Linked DNA regions of Homo sapiens: regions 1 and 3 are each linked to region 2. Evidence: fine-mapped expression QTL. A gene starts in region 2. Each other region holds a variant in brackets. All regions are shown on one strand. Distances are from middle to middle.

What was found. PIP is the estimated chance that this variant, and not a neighbour inherited with it, causes the effect.
Region 1: its variant is fine-mapped to the expression of FAM174B in whole blood (TOPMed, PIP above 0.99).
Region 3: its variant is fine-mapped to the expression of FAM174B in whole blood (TOPMed, PIP above 0.99).

What each region holds. Positions count from the first base shown.
Region 1 is chr15:92,803,663-92,811,846 of GRCh38, forward strand. LOC124903558 (a long non-coding RNA gene) reads right to left here and starts at 6,222. Exons shown (of 2, transcript XR_007064767.1): 1 at 5,984-6,222; 2 at 4,243-5,347. RefSeq lists enhancers at 780-829, 5,101-5,951, 5,888-6,007 and a silencer at 5,488-5,727. The variant A/G (reference allele first, on the strand shown) is at 4,739.
Region 2 is chr15:92,650,866-92,659,049 of GRCh38, forward strand. FAM174B (family with sequence similarity 174 member B) reads right to left here and starts at 4,910. Exons shown (of 3, transcript NM_207446.3): 1 at 4,451-4,910. The coding sequence starts at 4,794. RefSeq lists silencers at 4,287-4,356, 4,407-4,456, 4,557-4,756, 5,037-5,086.
Region 3 is chr15:92,777,396-92,785,579 of GRCh38, forward strand. LOC101926994 (a long non-coding RNA gene) reads right to left here. Exons shown (of 3, transcript XR_001751667.3): 3 at 2,671-2,831. Among named protein-coding and RNA genes, the nearest start is that of CHASERR, 100 kb to the right of the region's middle. The variant G/A (reference allele first, on the strand shown) is at 3,655.

The DNA of each region.
Region 1 (8,184 bases), 150 kb after region 2:
CCCAAGTAGCTGGGACTACAGGCATGCACCACTATGTCTGGCTAATTATTTTTATTTTTTATACAGTTGGGGTCTTGCTACATTGCCCAGGCTGGTCTTGAACTTCTAGGCTCAAGCAAACCTCCTGCCTCTGCCTTCCAAAGTGCTGGGATTACCGGTATGAGTCACCACACTGAGCAAGGGAGAAGAATTTTAAGAGTCCCTATAATAACTCCACACCTCTCTAAAAACCGCACTGCTCGCCCCTCCCCACTCCCACAGGTTTTGGAGTTTCTGACTCCTGAAAGAGAATGAGTCACAGACAGTTCCCGTCAGAAAAGACTATGTCCCTCCCACCTCTCATTTAGTTCCCGTTTGTTTAGGATTCAAGTGTCTTGGGCAGTTAGATAGCTCCCCAGCCTACCCAGTTTCCCTCTTGCCTCCCCTCTACTACCCCCAGAAATGCTTGTGCAATATTGGACTGACTCACCCAGAAATAACTCATGACTCTCCTTTGTTTACAGTTTAAGAGACTAGGGTGTTGAAATATCTCAGCAAAGGCCACTGAGGGACTCTTCAGTCCAGGGACAATGAAACACTGGACAACCTGGGAGGAGTTAGGTACATTCTCTGGCCTTCTCTCAGAGGGGCTTTTGCTGTGTTGTAACAGGCAGTGGAGTGTTGGTAAATATTTAACAAGGCATCTCCAAGGGGAAAAGCCTTAATATGTAGTGTTTACCTATTCCTGTGGTGTAAATACCCCTGCTATGGCCAGTTTCAAGCTACCAACATGATGTCATTGAAACCAAAGTTGGAAAGAAAAGTGCATCATCATTCTGAGCAGCTGACTCCAACACGCCACTGTAGCTCCACTGACCTAAGGGAAAACTGTCAGTCTTCACTCCATAAGGATGTACAGGCCCAGGGGCTGGACAATGTAGCTCTTGGAAGATCACAATAGAGTCAGTTTCCTAATTTCAGGGACCAACTGTTACTGCTAAGAATAAATGGGAGGCCAGGTGCAGTGGCTCACACCTGTAATCCAAGCACTTTGGGAGGCCGAGGCAGGTAGATCACCTGAGGTCAGAGTTCGAGACCAGCCTGACCAACAGAGTGAAACCTCGTCTCTACTAAAAATACAAAAATTAGCCAGGCTTGGTGGCGTGCACCTGTAATCCCAGCTACTCAGGAGGCTGAGGCAGGAGAATCACTTGAACCCAGGAGGCAGAGGTTGCAGTGAGCCGAAATCACACCACTGCACTCCAGCATGGGCAACAGACCAAGACTCTGTCTCAAAAAAAAAAAAAAAAGAACAAATGTGTAAAATAGTCACAGATCTTTACAATCCCATCCAGCGATGAGGTTCTAGGTACAAAACAAACATTAACATCTTTCTCCTCTGGAATCGCTTGAACCAAGGAGACAGAGGTTGCAGTGAGCCAAGATCGTGCCACTGCACTCCAGCCTGGGAATCAGAGTAAGACTCCGCCTCAGGAAAAAAAGAAAAAGAAATCTTTTTCCTCTGAACTCTCATCAAACTTCTATTTCTACATCTCTTTTGATTTTTTTTATTTATCTAACAATGACTGTGCCAAGCAATATTCCAAATAAGGTATATACCGTGACACAATCCAACCTCACAACAAGCCTACAGGCAAGTACTTTATGTATTTATTTATTTGTTTACTTATATATTTGTTGACACTGGGTCTCACTCTGTTGCCGAGGCTGGAGTGCAATGGCACCATCTGGGCTCACTGAAGCCTCGACCTCCTGGGCTCAAGCGATCCTCCCACCTCAGCACCCCCAGAGTAGCTGGGATTACAGGCACACGCTACCACACCCAGCTAATTTTTGTAATTTTAGTAGAGAGGGCATTTCACCTTGTTGCCCAGGCTGGTCTCGAACTCCTGGACTCAGGCGATCCACTGCTTCAGCCTCCCAAAGTGCTGGGATTACAGGAGTGAGCCACCAAGCCCAGCCTGGAACAAGCACTTTTTACAAATCTGTTTTACAAAGGAGCAAACTGAAGCGCTGAGAGGTTAAGTTACATGTCCAAAGTCACAAAGCCCTGAATTGCCTTTGCAATGCCCCTTAAAAAGTGGCAGAATAAATGCCCAACCCAAGAAGCTCTTCACATATTTGATTTAGATTCCACATAAAAATAAAAGCACTATGTATACATATTTACATATGGCATATTTATGATCTACTTTATAGTTATTTTGTAGCTGTTAGTAATGAAAATAAGAACAATTTTATACATCATGTGCTATGGAGAGACCACTAGACATGGTCATTGTTCAAAGGTCTAAACAGGAACTACATTTCTAAGAAATAGTTTATTTATTTTTTTTAGAGATGAGGTCTTACTATGTTGCCCAGGCTGGTCTTGACTCCTGAGCTCAAGCGATCCTCCTGCCTTGGCCTCCCAAAGTGTGGGGATTACAAGCATGAGCCATGGTGCCTGGCCCTAAGAAATAATTTAATATTTCATTATTAATAACAACACCTGAAATTTATAGAGCTTTTTTGTTTTGAGGCAGAGTCTCTGTTGCCCAGGCTGCAGTGCAGTCGCACTATCTCAGCTCACTGCAACCTCTGCCTCCTGGGTTTAAGCGATTCTCCTGCCTCAGCCTCCCAAGTAGCTGAGACTACAGGCACGTGCCACCACGCCCAGCTAATTTTTGTAGTTTTAGTAAAGATGGGGTTTCACCATATTGGCCAAGCTGGTCTTGAACTCCTGACCTCAAGTGATCTACCGGCCTCGGCCTCCCAAACTGCTGGGATTACAGGCGTGACCAACCGCGCCCGGCAGAGCATTTTATGTTTAAAACAGTTTTTCATGTGTAATCATGAGAGGATATGGAATCCGGAGCCAGTCAGACCTCAATTCAAATTCTGGTTTTAGTTCTAATACTGTTCTTAGTGTGTATGTATGTAGGTAGGCAGGTAGGTAGATCTTAGTGTGTATGTATGTAAGTAGGTAGGTAGATAGATAGATAGATAGATAGATAATTTTTATTTTTTTTGAGACGGAGTCTCCCTCTGTTGCCCAGGCTGCAGTGCAGTGGCGCAATCTCGGCTCACTGCAACCTCTGCCTCCCGTTCAAGTGGTTCTCCTGCCTCAGCCTCCCGAGTAGCTGGGACTACAAGCATGCGCCACCATGCCTGGCTAATTTTCTTTTTTTTTTTTTTTTTTTTTTTTTTTTTGGTATTTTTAGTAGAGAGGCGGTTTCACCACGTTAGCCAGGCTGGTCTGAAACTCCTGACCTCTGGCAATCCGCCCGCCTCAGCCTTCCGAAGTGCTGGGAGCCACGGTGCCCGGCCCTCACAGGCTTGAGCCACCGCACCCGGCCTTTAGAGTATATTTTAAAAATAGAGATAGGGGTCTACGTTGCCCACGCTGGTCTCAAACTCCTGAAATCAAGCGATCCTCCCACCTCGGCCTCTCAAAGCGCTGGAATTACAGGCTTGAGCCACTACGCCTAGCCCAGCATACTTTTCAACTGTTCAGTTTTACCTGGAACAAGTAATAGGTTCACATGGTCCAAATTCATAAGTTACTAAATTTTTTTTTTTTATTGAGAGGGAGTCTCGCTCTGTTGCCCAGGCTAGAGTGCAGTGGCGCCATCTCGGCTCACTGCAACCTCCACCTCCCGGGTTCAAGAGATTCTCCTGCCTCAGCCTCCCGAGCTGCTGGGACTACAGGCGCGTGCCACCACGCCCAGCTAATTTTTGTATTTTTAGTAGAGACGGGGTTTCACCATGTTGGCCAGGATGATCTCAATTTCTTTTTTTTTTTATTCAGACGGAGTCTCGCTCTGTTGCCCAGGCTGGAGTGCAGTTGCGCGATCTCGGCTCACTGCAGTCTCCGCCTCCCAGGTTCACGCCATTCTCCTGCCTCAGCCTCCAGGACTACAAGCACCCGCCACCACTCCCGGCTAATTTTTTGTATTTTTAGTAAAGACAGGGTTTCGCCGTGTTAGCCAGGATGGTCTCGATCTCCTGACCTCGTAATCCGCCCGCCTCGGCCTCCCAAAGTGCTGGGATTACAGGCGTGAGCCACCGCGCGCGGCCTCGATCTCTTGATCTTGTGATCCGCCCGCTTCGGCCTCCCAAAGTGCTGGCATTACAAACGTGAGCCACCGCGCCCGGCCACAAGTTACTAAATCTTACCAAAAAAAAAAAAAATCCCAACTCAGTCACCCTAGCAACCTACATCCTTCTCTCCCCGGAGGTAAAACTATGTTAACACCTGAATATTCTTCCAGAGATATTTTATGCATACATGGTACAAGCAAAAGGCACATACAATCGTATCATTTTACATAAATATTGGCACTCTAAATTCATGGAAAGTTTGAGCTACAGTTTCCTCTTCTATAAAAGAGTGGTAGGGAGGATTACATCACAGAATTATGCAAAATGCCATGGAATCAGCACTCAATAAAGACAAGTCTCCCTTTCCTTACCCTGAGAAGGGCTGTGAGGGAAAGGGGTCTTCAGTGTGCCTCGGAATCACCTTGCTGCCTAGTAATCACAGCTTCTCGGGCCCCACCCGCCACCGTCCTCAGAATTTCCCATTTAGAAGGTCCGGGATAGACTCCTAACACTGGCATTTCCAACGAGCTCCCCGACATTGGAGATGCTGCCTGGCTGGAGGACTATCTGAGAACCTCAATGTCTAGTGGAAACTTACGTGCCCTCGATTCCAACCAGGCTCTACCCCATGAACAAATTACTCTTGCTGAGCGCC[A/G]GTGTGAGTAGAAAGAGCTTCCATATCAAAGGCTGCTAGGAGGATTACCTAAGATAACGCAGGCCTTGCTCAAGACAAACGTTCAGGAAATCAAAATCGGTTTGGAGATGAAATGGGAAAGACAAGAGCAGCTCCAAGGAGAGAAGAACGTCCAGAAAACCAAGAAATAGGACTGGTAAAGGGTGCTGACCAGGTCCCTGGAGCTGCACCCCGCCCCGTGCGCCTCCCCAGCCCCCCGGCCGCACCGTGCCCACCCCGCGCTCGTCGTCCCCCTCGCCCCCAGCGCCACCCTGCACTGCGGACCCGGGACCGCCTGGGAAACGCCCTGGTCTGACATGGCTTGGGGCTCTGGGCAGAAGCCAGGTCTGAAAACCAAGGTTGGGGCCTCATGTGTTAGTCTGGAAGCACCAAGCACCGCATACCAAAATACCTCGAGGCAACCGTATGGCTTTTTTTTTTTTAATTAAGTTGTTCCCGGGCGGTGGCTCACGCCCGTAATCCCAGCATGTTGGGAGGCTGAGGCGGGCGCGTCCCTTGAGCACGGAAGCTGAGGCTGCAGAAGGCTGTGGTCGCGCCACTGCACTCCGGCCTGGGGGACAGAGTGAGCCCCTGTCTCAAAAATATAAAACAAAATAAAAAATTAATAATTAAATTAAATGTGTGTAAACATGTAGGTGACCTTCTAGCCCTCGGTGAACCAGACTAAAAAACGCTCCCGCACTAGGCGTGGTGCCCGGAGCGGCCCCGCCCTCGGAGCACGCTTGTGCGCCAAGGCTGGTGGCGGAACGCGGACGTGCTGCAGGCAGGGAATGAAATGGCGGAGGAAGGCGGGGCAGGGCGCGGCCGGAGCTCCGCGGCCAGCCGCCAGGGGGCAGCCGCGCGTCTGCGTCCCGCGGGCGGCTAGAACCAGTCCTGCCGGAAGTTGGGGCGGTGCCTTCGCTTCCGCGGAGCCGTGCCACGTGGCCGGCCCGGAGGGACAGGGGAAAACAACAAGATGGCGGCAGCCGGGGGCGGGGTCAGCCCGGCGTCCCTGAGGCTGCGAGCCCCTTAAAGGGCCGCGTTCGAGGAGCCGGGCGAGATGAACTGAGTGGTTTTACCCAGCCGTGGGGGCTGTTCGACTGAACATGGGCCTGGGCGGGGACAACCGCGCCAAGCGGACGCGCCCTCCGCCTGGTCGGAGTTCATCGACCCAGGCCCTGCGGGGAATCCCGCGGCGCAGTTCCGCAAAGCTGCCAGCGTGCTTACCAGTCGGGGCCCGTTTCTTTTGTCTCTGCGTTTGCTGCTCCGTGCAAACAAGGAGGACAGAAAACTCTTTATCGTGGCGTTTTCTTCCTGAGCGAGAGATTAGGTTGCTGCAAATCCAACGAGGCGAGTCCTCTTGGATCGAATTAATGCATTGGCTCTTCCCTTCGCAACAGCTTTGATGACCGTTTCCCGCCTTTGTGCAAAGCGTTAGAACAAACCCTACCTTCCTCCAAACGAAGGAGAAAAATCTCAATGATCTGGGTTTTAAAGTACCTTCCCCGCCCTGTCCAAATGCTGGAATTTTTTTTTTTTTTTTTTTTGACGGTAGATGGGAGCTGCCCTAGGACCTTGAATGTGTGCTAAAATCTGAAATTCTGTTAATTTATATCAGCCACCTTGGACACCTTTTCAGGAAATAAACATTTAGACATCGGTCGCTGTGTATTACAAAATGCAAGAAATAAAGCACAATCGTCAAGTGCTGAAGGCCCACAGCTTCCCCTTCGTGTCCACGGATCTAGTGCTGAAAGACAAACCCTTTGACTCCGCCGGGGCAGTTGGTCCAGGGTCCATTTTCATTTCTCACCGTTTTTGTTTTACATGAGTTTGAGATGCAAAAGAGCCGGTGTGGGTAAAAATAGTTAACCCCAGCTACTCAGAGTGTGATGGTATATTTAGAATAAAGGAGACATTTGTCCTTGGTTTTATTTATAAATGTGTCATCTTACATTTGGGATTCGGATTCTCTCATGCTTGCTAAGAAATTTGTGAGGCCACTGGCATGTTTCTGAAATGTGACCTTTTTCTTGCTTATTTAAAACAAAATAGTAATACTTGCCTCCCAAAGGTTTGGGAGGTTAATGTAATCAAAAAAAAAAAAAAAAGCCTGAATGTAATAAGGCTTCCAATGGAGGGCACACGACAGTGACAGCTGGGGAAAAGACATTATTTTCTTCATGAAGAGATCCCTTATGGTTTCTTCGGGCTGGTAGGGATTTTTAACACCTGTGCTGTGATCAAAATTGTATTACTATTAATGGTATAATGGTGTAATGTGAAGGGGGGCGGCGGAGGGCGTGGTCAAGCCTTCTATTATAAGGCTTAAGGGTGGATTTTTGACCCAATCAGAGGTTTAAGAGAATTTTCCTTTAGCCACTCCTTTGTGTATCCATGCCCTCTGAGGCTTCACTTCAGACTCGTCCATCGTTTGGCAAAGAAGCGGTGGAAAGAGTTTCTAAAGAATCCTTTAATCTAGAAAGGTCAGGAACCCTCCCTCCCCTCAGTCTGAGAAAAGAATGCAACTTTCCTTCATAGCATTTCCTCCAAAGGACCCTGCCCCATTTGTGTCCTTATAGTTTGCAGTGACTACCTCCTTTTTTGTCTCATTTTGTATATATGGTTCAGATAAAATATCGGACAACTTTTTCTGCAAATGCCATTGGCATACCGGAGCACAAGCTTCAGAGTACAGCCTCAGGTCTTAAGTTGTCTCCAGACTTTCATTAACATAGGCTTCCTGTTACAAAAGAGAAAATGTATTTTAAATTTTAAAATACCTTATTCTAAGAACTTCAGTTAAAAAAAAAAGAAAAAATTTAAAAGAACCCATACTCTAATAATGCAGTCACTCGTTCTTAGACTAGACTTAAGTTTGTTTTGGGGGGATTATACTGTGTGTACAATTTGTTATCTTGTTTACTTAACGTTTGGAAATTACTGTTATATTTCATATTACTGAAGCAAATTGTGCTCAACAGAAAACATGAAAAATACAAAGAAAATCACCCAAAATGTGACTACCAAGAAATAACCACTATTAAGCTAATCATCTGTACAACTGTATTTGTCTTAAAATAATACTAGACATAGTTTTATAACCTACATTTTGTATTTACGTATAATGTACTTTTTTATATCAGTAAGAATTTTCATGAGTTTTACAGTCTGCACAGTATTCCAGCAGATGAGTATGCCGTAGTTAACCATTAACAGTTCTCTTATTGGACACCAGATTTGTTAAATAGGTTTTGGGTTTTGTTTTGTTTTGTTTGAGACAAGGTGTTGCCCAGGTGAGATCATAGTGCGCTACAGCCTAAAACCCCTGGGCTGAAGCAATCCTCCAGCCTGAGCTTCCCAAGTAGCTGGGACTACAGGCACAATATGCTGTATGCAGCTCGTTTTTTGCTTCTGTAAATAATGCT
Region 2 (8,184 bases):
TACCTGTAGGACCACTCTCACACATGTGAAGGTACCCAACAAAGGGCCCTCGGTCTCCAGCCAGCTTTCCCTCCTTCCGATTTTTGTCTCCTGTCTAAAAATGGTTTGCCTTAATGATGAAATACATTTAAAAAGGTGGACGTGATTCTACAGATGGGGAAATCAGATTGATTAAGGAGAACATTTGGAAGAGACAGAGGCTCAACTATGGTAGAAAATGAAGAAATACAAAATAAAGCAATGAATACCAAATTATACCCATCAGATTGGAAAGCATTAGAAAGTAAGATAATACTAAGTGTTGGATATGATGTGAGAATCTGAGAACCCTCAGGCTCTGCAGATGGAAACCTACACTGGTGCCTGCTCAAGGAAATCAAGAATGAGCACCCCCTAGGATCCAGAAGCCCCACTCCCAGGTGTACACCCCAGATGCTCTCATACTGGTCCTCAGAAAGACACATCCAAGAATGCGGCCAGGAGCTGAGTATACACACAGGGATACTCAACATACACACATCATAACTACATGCTTCTGGATTGTAAAAGAATTCAAACTATGCAGAAACATATCGTGAATAATAAAAAAATATGATAATCACCCACATGCACAGACACACAGATTTATCTGCACATTCGTATATACATGTTTATAATTTATTTAAATGAGCTAATACTATACATGTCACTTTGTGACCTGTTTCAGACTCAAAAATATATAGCAAGTATTATCTCAATGTCATCATTTTGAACAGCTGCACAGTATTCTGCCATAAAGATTGCCATGATTTGCTTAACCAATGCCCAGTTGTTGGACACTTGGATTATTTAAACCTTTTCACTATCAAACAGAGCTTCTCTGAATATCATTGCACTTGCATCTTGGCTTTCTCTTCTAATCATTCACATTAGAAGCAAAGAATATATAGTGCAGTGGAAAATGTACATACTTTAAGAATGGAATCACTTGATTAAAAGTATACATCTTTTTCATTAAAAGACACATTCTTTGCTTCTAATTTCCTTGGATCCAATTTTTTTCTGTTGTCTGGTAAGGTGACTCCTTCAGAGAAAACAGAGAAATAGGCTAGGACTGCCATTTTATACGCAATCATACTTACTACACTCTCCTTTATCTACATTGTACAAATTCCTACCTCGCAGGTATCCAGCATCAGTCATGCAGCTAGTCTAGCACATTTTGAGAGACATCAGCAATGTAAAATCCTTGAGAGCTCAACATTCTTTTGCTAAAAATATCTTTATTAAATGCCAGCTTGTGCCTGGAACCACACTAGGTATTAGGGAAACACAGAAGATTAATGCCTAGTCCTGCTCAGAAGAAGTTCGGTGGCACTTGACTCTGAAGAGGGAATTCAAAAATCGAGTGTGCTTTGGAAGCACAGAGGGGCCCTAGCTGCAGAGGCTTCTCAGAGGAGGCAACAGCAACGAGGTCAAACAGCACCGAACTGACCACGCAGTCTTAGTGACAGAGGGGACTCCAGGCAGAGGGGTAGAGTGGGACAAGATGCTCAGGCCACGCAGTGCCTCCAGAGAACCCCAGGAAGTCCAGCAAAGCAGGAGGCGCACTGAGCAGAGCCGAGATGGGGGCTCAGGAGGGAGGCAGCACCCTGATCTGAAGAGTCAGCCTTGCCCACACATCAAGGAGTCTGTATGCAGGGAGAATTGGCAGGGAGGGGTAGAAGAAGGATGAGACAGGCATTCCTGCAGTTGAGGGAGGACAGACTGGAGAGGGACAAGGTTGGAGGCACGAACCCCAGCTTAACAGATATTATTGCAATTCAGGAGCGACAAGGTAGAAACGGCGGCAGGTGGCGAAGCTTCACTGGGGAAGGTGGTGTGGGCAGAGGTGAGACAGTCTCTTGGAGACTCAGGTGGTGGAATTTCCAGGACTCGGTGCCCGCAGGCTAAGGAGTTGCAGAGGGAGAAAGGAAGGAGGGCCCCCAGCCAGCAGAGCAGGCATTTGGTTAGCTGACTAACCAAGGTTACAGGGGAGCGTGGGACAGGGGAAAGGCCACAGTACAGACCGAATAGCACAGATGAGGTGCTGGCCCTGCCTTGGCTACACAGACTTGCAGAGTGTTCTAGAATCTAGCAATGACTTATTCCACTTCCTGGGATGCAACTTTCTCAACTGCAAAGAAACACATGGGGACTGTGCACCATCAGGGCCCTTGCAAGCTGTAAAATATTACAAAGTCCTCTCTAGATCAGAATCTGGGGTGGCAGCTGTCCACCTGAAAACTCACCCTAACAAGATTGCCTTCCTGGGAAGAGACGCAGATCATGTCCATAACCAGCTTCTCCTATGAAGTCGTAAACTTCTTTCAACACTCCACACCCAAGCTACTAAAGACCCATCTCTTCCAGGCTAGAGTGCTGGCTTACCCACTCCAACATGAGTCTCGCACCCCTCACATCTGGGTGCATGCTGCCTTCTTTTCTCCCCTACTCCTGAGTAATAAACAGCAGACTAGCAAAATTGTTCAAATACCTTCTAAAAAAAATACACAGCCTTGTGGACTCCAGGGCCTATTTTGAGCTAAATGTTTCAAACCTCCAGACTCAGAGCTGCTCTAGGCATTAACCTTCACTCCAACTGAACAATCAGGAAGTCCGTAGATGACAATGGCACCTCTGCTGAATGGCAGGCCCGCATCGGGCATGGAGACACGAAGATGAACTGGACTTCCCAACCTCAAGGGCCCTCTGCTGAGTGCAGAAGCCAGCATGGCATGGTTGGACTGAAGGATGCACAGATTAGGGATGAGGAGGTCAGAAAATAGTGACAGCCTCATTCAAATGTCCAGGAAAACTATACAGAGGAAGGAGGATGGGAGCTGGGCCTTGGTGGCTGCACGCACTTGTAGAATATAGAGGCAAGAATTAGGCTAGAAGCGGGAAACCACAGAGCATAAGGAGCAAGTGACAAGGTACTAGGCTCAGAAGCGCTGGTTGATGTCTGCGTTGCAGACGGGGGCCAGCTTGCAAGGGCCCCAAATGCCACACCCAGGTATTGCCATGCCTAGGTAGTGGCCACAGAGAGCTGCTAGAGTTTGTAAACAGAGGATTGAGGCCAGTGGGTAGAGTGGGAAGAAGACAGGAGCATTTCAACCCAGAGAACATCAAGGAGACCAGCAGAGTGAGGAACGATGTGGCCTGAGACAAGGCAGGGAATGGTGAGGTGAGCGTGGGACCATACTTCCCCTTTCTCCATTTTCTCAGACCACTGGCATCTAATCCTACAGACACAGAAGAAAACACCTGGACTCAAAGTCACACACAACTGACAGCAAAGCTCAATACATAGATGGCTCCTAACTCTGCCTTTTCCTGGTCTGGTTTCTGCTGTTGCACTGAAAATGCTACCAGGAGAGCAAGCCCTGAAGCCCAACCTGCCACAGCTGATCAAACACCAAAGCACTGTGTGTACGCTTGGAAGCAGAGGGAGGCAGCAGTGAACAGCTGACACACACACCCAGACTTCCAGGCGGGCCTCAGTAACAGGACAGGTTTGGTTCATTTCCTGCAAAAACAGGATTTCCCAGGCATTAAAGGAAATGTCCTTGCATTCCTCTTAGCCCTGTCCACCAGGATGGACAGGGATCAAGGACCTGGGACATCCTTCCTAATTTACCAGACACTTTATCCCTGAACGTGAGCAACCTACAAAAGGCTCTCCAAGATCCCTCATGCCCCTGTGAATGTTCATCTAGCGCAACTTAGGCAGGAGCCTAGGAAAGCCGTCTGTGTCCCCCACCAACAGAAAATAAGGGAGGCCACCAAGGGTCGCCTAGAATCCTGAAGCTCAGCTCCAACCCCTGGTGCAAAGCACCCCTCCAGCGTAATTCTGGAGGCAATTCTACTACCCCCCACACTAGAAACTGCTTCTTTCAGTAGCAAAAAAAAAAAAAAGAAGAAGAAGAAGAAGAAGAAAAAGTAGGCGGGGCGTGAGGGAGCTGCAGATGGTAGAAGGGAGAGGGAGTAGCGAGATTAAAGTTAGACAGGCCTGGGTTCAAGTCCTACCTCCACCACTGAGTTTACCTTAGATGAGCCATTTTGCCTCTCTGAAAATGTTTTCCTCATCTGTGAAATGATTATAAAAATAAATTATGGGAAACGCTGTCAGAATTCAGAGCGCTATTGTTAGTGTTCAGCATTAGCAGAAAGCCAACAAATGGGAACCACATATTTATTTTATATATATAGTTAAAGAGAGGAAAGAAAATTCCTAAAACATGTACCAGGAAAATCCAGACGAGCACACCCCGGCCCCCCACCCACTCTCCCGGGCAGGGCAGGAGGCACACGGCTGGCTGGGGCGCACCAGGGCACCTGTGCGTGCAGGTGGGGCGGGCGCGCGGCGACAGCAGGTTGGCGATGCCGCCCTGTCGGCCGGCGGGGGAAGGAAGAGGGCGGGAGGGCCCACCTGAAGACGCGCAGCAGCAGGCAGGCGATGAGGAGGGTGGTAAAGGCGAACGCCACGATCACGGCTGCCTTGAGGGTGGGTAGGTCGCGGAGGAGGATGGAAATGCGGGTCACCAAGGCGTCGCCACTGCTGTTGGAGCTGGAGCTGCCGCTGCCGCCCGCCGCCCCAGACCCAAACCGGGTGGTGTTCCCGGGCCCCGGGCCGGGCGGTGGCCGCGACTCGCGCTCGGGTTCGGGCCACGGCGCGGAGACGGACTCGGCTCTGCTGGCGCGGGCGGCGGGAGCGGCCAGGAGCGCGAGCAGCAGCAGCGGCAGGAGCGGGGCGGGCAGCGGCACGGCGCGCATAGTGCGGTGGGTCGGCACAGGATCGGGCAGGGCGCGCGCGGCTGAGCTCCAGGATCCGCACCAGCACGGAGGCCTGCACCGGGGGATCCTGCGGCGGAGGCGGCTGCGCGGTGCTTGGCAGGAAGCTGCGGCGCCCGGAAGAGCCCGCGCCACCGCCGCCGCCACCACCAACACGTTGCAAGGAGTCATTCGACGGGCCGCGGCCCCACGTGGGCGGGGCAGGCCACCCGGCCTGGGTCCCGGCTGCGCTCCGCTCGCCCGCGACCCCAATTCCTCGGGACTTGAGACCCCGTGGTGAAGCAGCAACTGCCACGATGACACTTGGGCTGGCCCTGTGTTACACGTTTCACGTGTTTTATTTATTTCATTTAATTCTACAACCCCCTTTGAAGACAGGTATTCTGTTACCCACATTTGATAGCTGACTTGGCACCCAAAGAGCCAGCTCACAGCAACCCACATTGTGTCAGACTAAGAATCAAAAACTATGGGACCTAGAAGTAGACTCCCATCTTGCAGATCAAAAACTGAAGCCGACAGTGAAGTGGTTGCCTGATGTCCTATGCAACGCATAATTTCAGTATCTCCCCTAATTTCCCTCTTTCTCAAAAGGGGTTTCTTATTTCATGCGCCTCTGCTTACGAACCGGACTGGGATGTGAATCTCTGCCTCTCATACCTTTGTTGTGGAACACCAGTTGGTGTGGTTAATGCCCCCCTGCCTGGCTGAAGTTTCTCCGGGGAATAATTGGCTTGCTGCCTCTGGTTTGTAAGCTAAATGATGCTTAGGTGGAGAAAGACAATTAAGGAAGTTCTAGTGGGAGGCCCAAAGGTGGAAACTGATGGGGACACAGAGCCCCTACCTGAAGTACTAGGAGCCATTCCCAGGGCTTCAGGGTTCCCCTTTTACACTGCAGATGGGTCCTGGCAGGAAGCTTTTCGGTGGTGGGTAAACAGTTAAATACACATGACATGACAAGGTCCCAGGGACCTTAAACAGCCCATTTCTGGTCCTGCTGGAAAAAGAGACAAATATAGTACAGTGTATTAGTTGTCTACTGCAGCATAACAAATTGCCCTAAAACCTAGCTGCTTAAAACAACATGCATTTAGTATCTCACAGTCTGTGGGTCAGGAAACTGACCATAGGTTACCTGGGTTCTCTGCTTCAGAGCCTCTCCCAAAGGTGCAATCAAGGTGTCAGCTGGGGCTGGGGTCTCCTCTGAAGGCTCAACTGGGGAAGGATCTGCTTCCAAGCTCAATCAGCATTTTTTGGCCAGATTCAGCCCTGCACTGGCTGTTGGACTGGAGCCTCAGTTTCCTTGGGGCAGTTGGCCAGAGGTTGCCCTCAGTTCCTTGGCATGGGGCCCTTCCAACATAGCAACTTGCTTCATCAAAGTATGCAAGTCAAGATAGCAATAGAAAGAGTCACCTACCAAGACAGAAGTCACTGTCTTATGAAACCTCATCACAGAAGTGACATTCTCACACCTTTGTCATATTCTATCAGTTAGAAGCAAGTCACAGGTTTTATCCACACTCAAGGAGAAGGAATTACACAACAGTATGAATATCAGGAAGCAGGGATCATTGGGGCCATCCTAGAAGCTGCCTGCCACCTACAGTGTAATTCATTTTGATCTGGGGGGATGGACAACAATCAGATTATCAGAAGTCATCATCCAGAAGGTACTTCTGAAATGCATGTTAAATATGCATTCCATGTTAAATATGCCCCAGTGATAAGAGATATGGATAGATCACATGATTTAGGTCTCTTCTAACTCTGAAATATCACCTTCTGGTATGTTAAAAATGTTGCATTAGTAGAGAGTCAACATCATCATATCAGTATGATAGAATATATAAAAGTAAGTTTTTAAAGAAACACCTCTGATTCCATGATTTTGGAGAACTGTTCTCCAAGGCATAAACCTCAGCTATCACAGCCTCTTATTTTTGTACTTATCAGAAATTCCTGCACGATACAGCAAAGAGGTCCTGGGCTTTGAGCCTCTTAGCCAGGATGAAAGGTTTGACCACTGAATGGCCTTGGCCAAGTATTTAACCACTGAATACCAGGTTTTTAATATCTGAAATAGGCTGGGCGTGGTGGCTACGCCTGTAATCCCAGCACTTTGGGAGGCCAAGGTAAGTGGATCACCTGAGGTCAGGAGTTCGAGACCATGGTGAAACCCCGTCTCTACTAAAAATAAAAATTAGCTGGGTGTGGTGGTGCATATCTGTATTCCCAGCTATTCGGGAGGCTGAGGCAGGAGAATCGCTTGAACCCGGGAGGCAGAGGTTGCGGTGAGCCAAGATCGCGCCATTGCACTCCAATCTGGGCAACAAAAGCAAAACTCTGTCTCAAAAAAAAAAAAAAAATCTGAAGTAGGGACAAATAGTACCCAGCTCAAGGCCACTGGAAGCTTCCATAGGACAGAGAAAATATTAGTGCTGTTTTCCTTATTTTGCCACAATTTGTGGACTGATGGTCTACATCAGTCATTAAACAATGCTTGATTGTTTAATGCTAACATCAAGAATGTAGAAAGCATAAATGTTAGACTTTTTTCATAACGTGAAACTTTAGAATCTTTCCTTCTAATCATTTGCTTACTTAAAAATTGCCCTCAATTAGAGTTCTTTAAAAACATTTTAATTCAAATAACCATAAACAAGGACATTTTTAACATGGTAAACGGGCAACAAAACCAAATCTGGTTGATTTCAGAGAAGGGGAGATTATTGGAAGCATGTCATGTTGCTTCCAGAATTGACTGTAAGCCAAAGCAGAAGTTCTAACAGTGGGATTTGTGGACTCCTGGGGTCTCTGAGACCCTTTCAGGGAATCTTCAAAGTGAAAACTAATTCAATAATGATAATAAGATGTTATGTGTCTTTTTCACTATGTTGACATTTGCACTAATAGTGCAAAAGCAACAGTGAGGAAAACTGATGGTGCCTTAGCACAAATCGAGGTACACAATATTCATAGTCGCTGTATTCTTCACAACTATACACTATAGGAAAAAAAAAAATCAGTTTCACTTTAGAATGCCCTTGAGGTAGCCATTAAATTATTAAATCTTGACCTTAAGATCATTTTAATATTATACATGATAAAATGGGAAATAGGAATAAATCACTTCTGCTGTACATTCATGCATAATGACTGACTCAAGAAAAAGCATGTTTACAATTCCTAGAGTTGCAAACTGAACTAGCCACTTTTTTCACGGAAGACCATTTTTAATCAAGAGAGTGACTGACAAACTTTACACTTGGTCTTTGGCAGGCATTTTCTCAAAAATGAGCAAAATGAGGCTGTCATTTCAAGGACACCCACTGCCAGTATTGTAGCCAATGATAAAATACAAGCCTTCAGGTG
Region 3 (8,184 bases), 130 kb after region 2:
CTCTACTAACAATACAAAAATTAGCCTGGTGTGGTGGTGCATGCTGGTAATCCCAGCTACTCAGGAGGCTGAGGCACAAGAATCGCTTGACCCCAGGAGCTGAGATCATGCCACTGCAGTCCAGCCTAGCAACAGAGTAAATAAATAAATAAATAAATATAATAATAATATATTATTATATGTAATATAATAATATATTATTATATATTATATTATATGTAATATATTATATTATATATTATATTATATGTGATATATTATATTATATATTATATTATATGTGATATATTATATTATTATATATTATATGTGATATATTATATTATTATATATTATATTATATGTGATATATTATATTATTATATATTATATTATATGATATATTATATTATTATATATTATATTATATGTGATATATTATATTATTATATATTATATTATATGTGATATATATTATTATATATTATATGTAATATATTATATTATATGTAATATATTATATTATATTATATGTAATATATTATGTTATATTATATGTAATATATATAATATATATTTTATCATATATTTTATCATATAGTATATTTTATCATATATTTTATCATATTTCATCATATAACATATTTTATTATATATAATGTCATAATATATTTTATTATATATGTCATAATATATTTTATTACATATAATGTCACAATATATTTTATTACATATAATGTCACAATATATTTTATTACATATAATGTCACAATATATTTTATTACATATAATGTCACAATATATTTTATTATATATAATGTCACAATATATTTTATTATATATAATGTCACAATATATTTTATTATATATAATGTCATAATATATTTTATTATATATAATGTCAATATATTTTATTATATATAATGTCACAATATATTTTATTATATATAATGTCATAAGATATTATATATAATGTCATATTTTATTATATATGTCATAATATATTTTATTATATATAATGTCATAATATATTATTCTTCCATGTATATGTTGTTTTACGCAAAAAGCAGAGGAAAAATATATTTTGTATTGATTTGTATAGGCACAAAAATACCTTTGGGGCAAGATAGGAAGTGGGCATATGTGCGGTAGGGTAAGGATGGAGAAAAGAACTTCCCCATATACCTTTGGCTTTTTTTTTTTTTTGAGACAGAGTCTCACTCTGTCACCCAGGCTGGAGTGCAGTCGCATGATCATGGCTCACTGCAGCCTCGAACTGCTGGGCTCCAGTGATCCTCCCACCTCAGCCTCCCCAGGTGCTGGCACTACAGACATGTGCCACTACACCCTTGCAATTTTTTTTTTCACAGTGAAAGATTTTACTTTATTTTTTTTTACTTTCATCCAAACATACCCTTTTCTGAAAAACATAAAAGCATGCACATCAATGGCATCCCTGTAAAGAAAAAATAATAATTAAGCTGTAAATCAATAATAATAATACAAACTTTTAAATGATATGTGAAAAGATTTACAGGTAGTCATAGGGCTCTTAATTTTAGAAAATAATAATTCAAGTGAATATCAATACAGGTTAGGGAGAAGCTTTTTTTTTTTTTTTTTTTTAGATGGTGTCTCTCTCTTGTTGCCCAGGCTAGAGTGCAATGGTGCAATGGCACGATCTCGGCTCACTGCAACCTCTGCTTCCCAAGTTCAAGTGATCCTCCTGCCTCAGCCTCCTGAGTAGCTGAGATTACAGGCATGCACCACCACACCCCGCTAATTTTGTATTTTTGGTAGAGATGAGGTTTCTCCATGTTGGTCAGGCTGGTCTCAAACTCCCGACTTCAAGTGATCTGCCTGCCTTGGCCTCCCAAAGTGCTGGGATTACAGGTGTGAGCCACCGCTCCCAGCCTGCAAACATTTTGATACAAAATACTTTTCAGCAATAATATTTTATAGACCTTTTGTGAGAAGAATATTAGTATAGTCCTAAGAAATACAATATTCAAGTCTTTTTTTTTTTTTTTTTGAGATGGAGTTTCACTCCTGTTGCCCATGCTGGAGTGCAATTGTGTGATCTCGGCTCACCACAACCTCCGCATCCTGGGTTCAGGTGATTCTCCTGTCTCAGCCTCCCGAGTAGCTGGGATTACAGACATGCACCACCACGCTTGGCTAATTTTTTATATTTTTAGTAGAGATGGGGTTTCTCCATGTTGGTCGGGCTGGTCTCAAACTCCCAACCTCAGGTGATCTGCCCGCCTCAGCCTCCCAAAGTGCTGGGATTACAGGCATGAGCCACCACGCCTGGCCTCAAGTTATCTTACGCAGGTCAGGTACTGGTTACGCACGTCCGTGTAAAGAGACCACCAAACAGGCTTTGTGTGAGCAATAAAGCCTTTTAATCATCTGGGTGCAGGCCGACTGAGTCCAAAAAAGGAGTCAGCAAAGGGAGATGGGGTGGGCCAGTTTTATAGGATTTGGGTAGGTAGTGGAAAATTACAGTTAAAGGGGGTTTTTCTCTTGTGGGCAGGGGCAGGGGTCACCAGGTGCTTGGTGGGGAGCTCCTGAGACTCAGTCCAGGAGAAGGAATGTCACGAGGTCAGTTGTTCAGTTAGGGTGGAGCAGGAACAAATCACAAGGGTGGAATGTCATCAGTTAAGGCAGGAACTGCCTATTTTGCTTCTTTTGTGGTTCTTCAGTTGCTTCAGGTCATCTGGATGTATACATGCAGGTCACAGGGGTTATGATGGCTTAGCTTGGGCTTAGAGGCCTGACAGTGCCCTTGTTAAAATGAGTTAGAACCTACATAATCCCAGTAGCATTGCCTCTTTAAATGTACAGCATATCTATGATATTCAAAATAAACACAGACATGGGATTGATCTAAATTTTACTTTACAGGTAAAAGAAAATTACAATTCAGCATGAGAACATTCTTCATAAGTTTTACCTATGGCCCCAATGATAATTAGGCCAACTGTATCCTGAGTGTATATGAATGTGTGAATACATACACATACTAATGTATACAAACCAATTCACACAACACGACTCTCCAGAGATGTTGCTTGAAGCACCAGAGAGTAATTTCTTTATTTTTAGTTTTGAAGAGACAGGGTCTCACTAGGTTGCCCAGGCTGGTCTTGAACTCCTGGCCTCAAGTGATCCTTCTGCCTCAGCCTCCCAAAGTGCTGGGTTTACAGGTGGGAGCCACTACACCTGGCCGCCTTTTGTATTTTTTAAAGCTTGAAGCACATATGTGTATTACTTATTAAAAATTTAACAAAGAATTTTAAAAAGAGAAAGAAAGGCCTTTTAGAGGATAGGTCATTTTAGGACTCCCTGGTTCCAAGATATAACTCAATTGTCCTGTAATGAGATAGATACTTCCTGAATCTATTGGGGTTTAAGATTAAAAAAAAAAAAAAAAAAGACGTTCTCTTATTCAGACCCATTTATATAGTTCTCATTGCCTTTTCTCATTATGCTCCTGAGGCTCATTTGAAGCTAACACTCAAGCACCAGTGACATCTGGTAACATGGGTAACCCTGGGCAACCAGCTTCTCTCATAGTTGTCATAGCAACAATGATGTTCTGACAGCTGAGTTTTCATCGTGAAGTAATTATCAAGCTTTGGGGAGGGCTCCTCCATGTTTGCAGTTGTTTAC[G/A]TCAATGAGGTTTATGAATGAACCTCAATTAGATGCAATTTTGATTGAAGTGTTAAGAGAGGCTGTGAATTGAGTCAGATTTACATATCCTTCCACCCAGCCTGGCAAATCTGGTGAATTGTAGGCCTGGTGCAATTCAGAGAGGGGGTGTGACTTGCACTTCAGCCATCAAAAGCCACTGGATATGCGAGGCTTGGTGGCTCATGCTTGTAATCCCAGCACTTTGGGAGGCTGAAGTGATCACCTGAGGTCGGGGGTTCGAGACCAGCCTGGCCAACATGGCGAAACTCCGTCTCTACTAAAAACACAAAAAAAGGCCAGGCACAGTGGCTCACACCTGTAATCCCAGCACTTTGGGAGGCCGAGGTGGGCGGATCACCTAAGCTCAGGAGTTCGAGACCAGCCTGACCAACATGGTGAAACCCTGTCTCTACTAAAAATACAAAAATTAGCAGGCATGGTGGCACACGCCTGTAGTCCTAGCTACAGGGGAGGCTGAGGCAGGAGAATCCCTTGAACCCAGGAGGCAGAGGTTGCAGTGAGCTGAGGTCACGCTACTGCACTCCAGCCTGGGCAACAGAGTGAGACTCCATTTCAAAAAAAAAAAAAAAATTAGCTGGCTGTGGTGGACATGCCTGTAATCCAAGCTACTCGGGAAGTTGAGGAATGAGAATCTCTTGAACCTGGGAGGCGGAGGCTGCAGTGAGCCGAGACTGCACCACTTCACTCCAGCCTGGGCAACAGAGCAATACTCTGTCTCAAAAATAAATAAATAAAAATGTTTTTTTAAAAAGCCACTGGAAGGCTGAAGACCTGGCACGTTCCAACCTGAGATGAACAGTTTCTTCTCTATCCTCTGTTCCCCCACCCAACCACAAGTAGCAGGAACAGACCCAGCAGGTCCTTGATTTCAACCCAGCATATAAAACAAAAGTTCTGATTTGTCAAAACTTTGTAAAACCCATATGTCTATATAATTAGCCCCATTTCACACTGGCGAAACCTCGGGTTTAGACTGCTCAGACTCTTTCCGCTGGACAGCAGTGAAGTCAGGACTCACAGCCACATCTCAGCTTCTTCCACTTCTGCCACCTGCTCAGAGCCAGGAATAAATATTTCTTTGGGTTATCTGGAAAGTGACACTGAGCCTTTCTTACGTCCACAAGCCTTTGTTAAAAGAACAAGTGCTTCTGCATCTATCAGCCAAAGTCAGTAGAAGTGGCTTGGTTCTGGCAGCCAAGAACCCAGCTTGTTGGTGACAAGCTCCTGGTGACACATATGAACTCTTAACCTCTGATTTGAGTGAGGAATTGTAACCAAGTGCCCCTCATTTTTCTAAGAGATAGTTTGTTTCTCTCCCTTCTTTTCTCATTCCCCTGGTTCCCCACTTCCCACTTAGTCCCTTAGAAATGCAAATATAGGCCAGGTGCGGTGGCTCACGCCTGTAATACCAGCACTTTGGGAGGCCGAGGCAGGTGGATCACCTGAGGTCAGGAGTTCGAGACCAGCCTGACAAAAATGGTGAAACCCTGTCTCTACTAAAAATACAAAAAATTAGCCAGGTGTGGTGGCGCATACCTGTAATCCCAGCTACTCAGGAGGCTGAGGAAGGAGAATCACTTGAACTCGGGAGGCGGACAGTGCGGTGAGCCGAGATTGCACCATTGCACTCTAGCCTGGGCATGAAGTGTGAAACTCCCTCTCAAAAAAAAAAAAAAAAATGTCCGGGCGCGGTGGCTCACGCCTGTAATCCCAGCACTTTGGGAGGTCGAGGCGGGCGGATCACGAGGTCAGGAGATTGAGACCATCCTGGCTAACACGGTGAAACCCCATCTCTACTAAAAATACAAAAAATTAGCCGGGCCTGGTGGCGGGCTCCTGTAGTCCCAGCTACTTGGGAGGCTGAGGCAGGAGAATGGCGTGAACCCAGGAGGCAAAGCTTGCAGTGAGCCGAGATCACGCCACTGCACTCCAGCCTGGGCGACAGAGCGAGACTCCTCCGTCTCAAAAAAAAAAAGAAAAAAAAGAAAAGAAAAGAAAGTTAACAGTAGCTTCAAACAATAGCCAAGGAAGTTAGAGTCACAAGGTGTTGGTTCCCTACGTAACAACTTAACATATGTCCCTGAGTTTTTCAGAACTCCCACCAAATGGATCCGCTGGCACGTAGACCTCAGCTAAGGGGCAAACTGAGGACTGCACTTTGACTACCATTCTTTGTCCTGAAGTTCTTCCTGAGAGGCCTGGAGGAAGTCACACCCACAAGGCAGTGCTCACATCTTCTGCTGCTGACCCCAGCTTTTTAAAGAAAGCTTCTCCTCCTCAACCAACTACAAATCAGAAAATCTTTGAATCTACCTAGGACCTCTAAGCACCACCCTCTAACCCTGCTTCGAGATATTCCATCTTCTAAGGCCAAACCAATGTATAATCTCCATGTATTCATTTACAATTTTGCCTGTAACTTCTCCTTTCCTGAAATTTTCCCCTGCTTTTAAAAACCTTTGCTTACAAGCCATCAGGAAGTTTGGATCTTAAGCATGAGCTGCCTGATTCTCCTTGCTTGGTGCCCTGCAATAAATGATTCACTTTCATTTGCTGCAATCCCAATATCACTGTTTCGCTTTGCTGCATACACACACACACACACACACACAAACCACAAAGAACGAAAGAAAAAACAGTGTAAAAAAATGTAAAATTTTTTTAAGAGAAAATCTAGCGTGTATATATTTTATATAATATTTTTGTTTAACTATATATACAGACATATATATGTTACATGTGTGTATTACATATATACATATGTTATATGTGTGTGTTACATATATACATATGTTATATGTGTGTTACATATATACATATATATGTTATATGTGTGTGTTACATATATACATATATATGTTATATGTGTGTATTATACATATTTTGGGGGCAAGGGGGTCTCGCTCTGTTGCCCAGGCTGAAGTACAGGGGTGCAATCATGGCTCACTGCAGCCTCAACCTCCCTGGCTCACTTAATCCTACTGCCTTAGCCTCCCAAGTATCTGGGACTACAGGCACACACCACTGCACCCAGCTAATTTTTGTTTATTTTTTTTTTGGTAGAGACGGGGTCTCACTATGTTTCCCAGATTGGTCTCAACTCCTGGCTCAAGCAATCCTCCTGCCTCTGCCTCCCGAAGGCTGGGATTACAGGGGTAAGCCACTATACTCGGCTGCAAATATATATATATTTTTGAGACAGAGTCTCGCTCTGTCTCCCGGGCTGGAGTGCAGTGGTGCGATCTCAGCTCACTGCAGCCTCTACCTCCTGGGTTCAAGTGATTCTCCTGCCTCAGCCTCCTGAGTAGCTGGGACTACAGGCTTGCACCACGACGCCCGACTAATTTTTGTATTTTTAGTAGAGACAGGGTTTCACCATGTTGGCCAGGATCGTCTCGATCTCTTGATCTCATGATCCGCCCGCCTCGGCGTCCCAAAGTGCTGGGATTACAGGCGCGAGCCACCGCACCCAGCAAGCTGCCAATATTTTTTAATTAAAGCTTTATTGGTAGCTTAAAGGTTTGTACACCTAGGCCAATGTACTATCGTTAGATTCAGGATAGACAAGAGTTAGGAAAAGGGAGATTATGAAAGAAGTGGGAAAGGAAACTGCAACTTTATCGCAGGAGAGTTCCCAAGGCAGATCAATTTTAGAAAAGAGTGCATATAAATATAGGAGATTTGGGCCAGGCGCTGTGGCTTATGCCTGTAATCCCAGCACTTTGGGAGGCTGAGGCAGGCAATTCACATAAAGCCAGGAGTTCGAGACCAGCCTGGCCAACGTGGCAAAACCCCGTCTCCACTAAAAATACAAAAAAAATTAGCCAGGTGTGGTGGTGGACACCTGTAATCCCAGCTACTCAGGAGGCTGAGGCAAGAGAATCACTTGAATCTGGGAGGTGGAGGTTGTAGTGAGCCAAGATCACGCCACCACACTACACCCTAGGTGACAGCAAGACTGTCTCAAAAAAAAAAAAAAGGAGATTTGGAAATGTATTTCCTTAAAACAAATCCACATACACCTTGCAGAATGCATACACATAAATACTCCAATTTGAAGATGCTGATCTAAAACATTCTAAGGTCTATCTGAAAGAACTTAGAAATTCATTAATCTTAAATTTTATTTAGTATGTACCTCAGAATAACTAAGGTAACCACCAAAAGAATAGATATTCTTATAGAGACATAGAATAGTTATTCTAAGAAGAAAAAACTAGAAGAAGAGGAAAAACAAAACCATTAATCAGCCAAGAGGTAGGTGGTGGTGGAAGAGAAGAGCAAACAGAAAAAGCAGAAGAAATACAATAGACTATAATAAGGTGGTAGAAAATAAATCCAAATAAATCAACAATTGCAGTAAACTTAAAGGGAAAAACTTTCAAATTAAAAGGCAAAGATTTTTCAGACTAGACTTTTTTTAAGTTAGATATAGCTGCTATTTTAAAGAGAGGCCACACACACACACAGAGAGAGAGAGAGAAATAA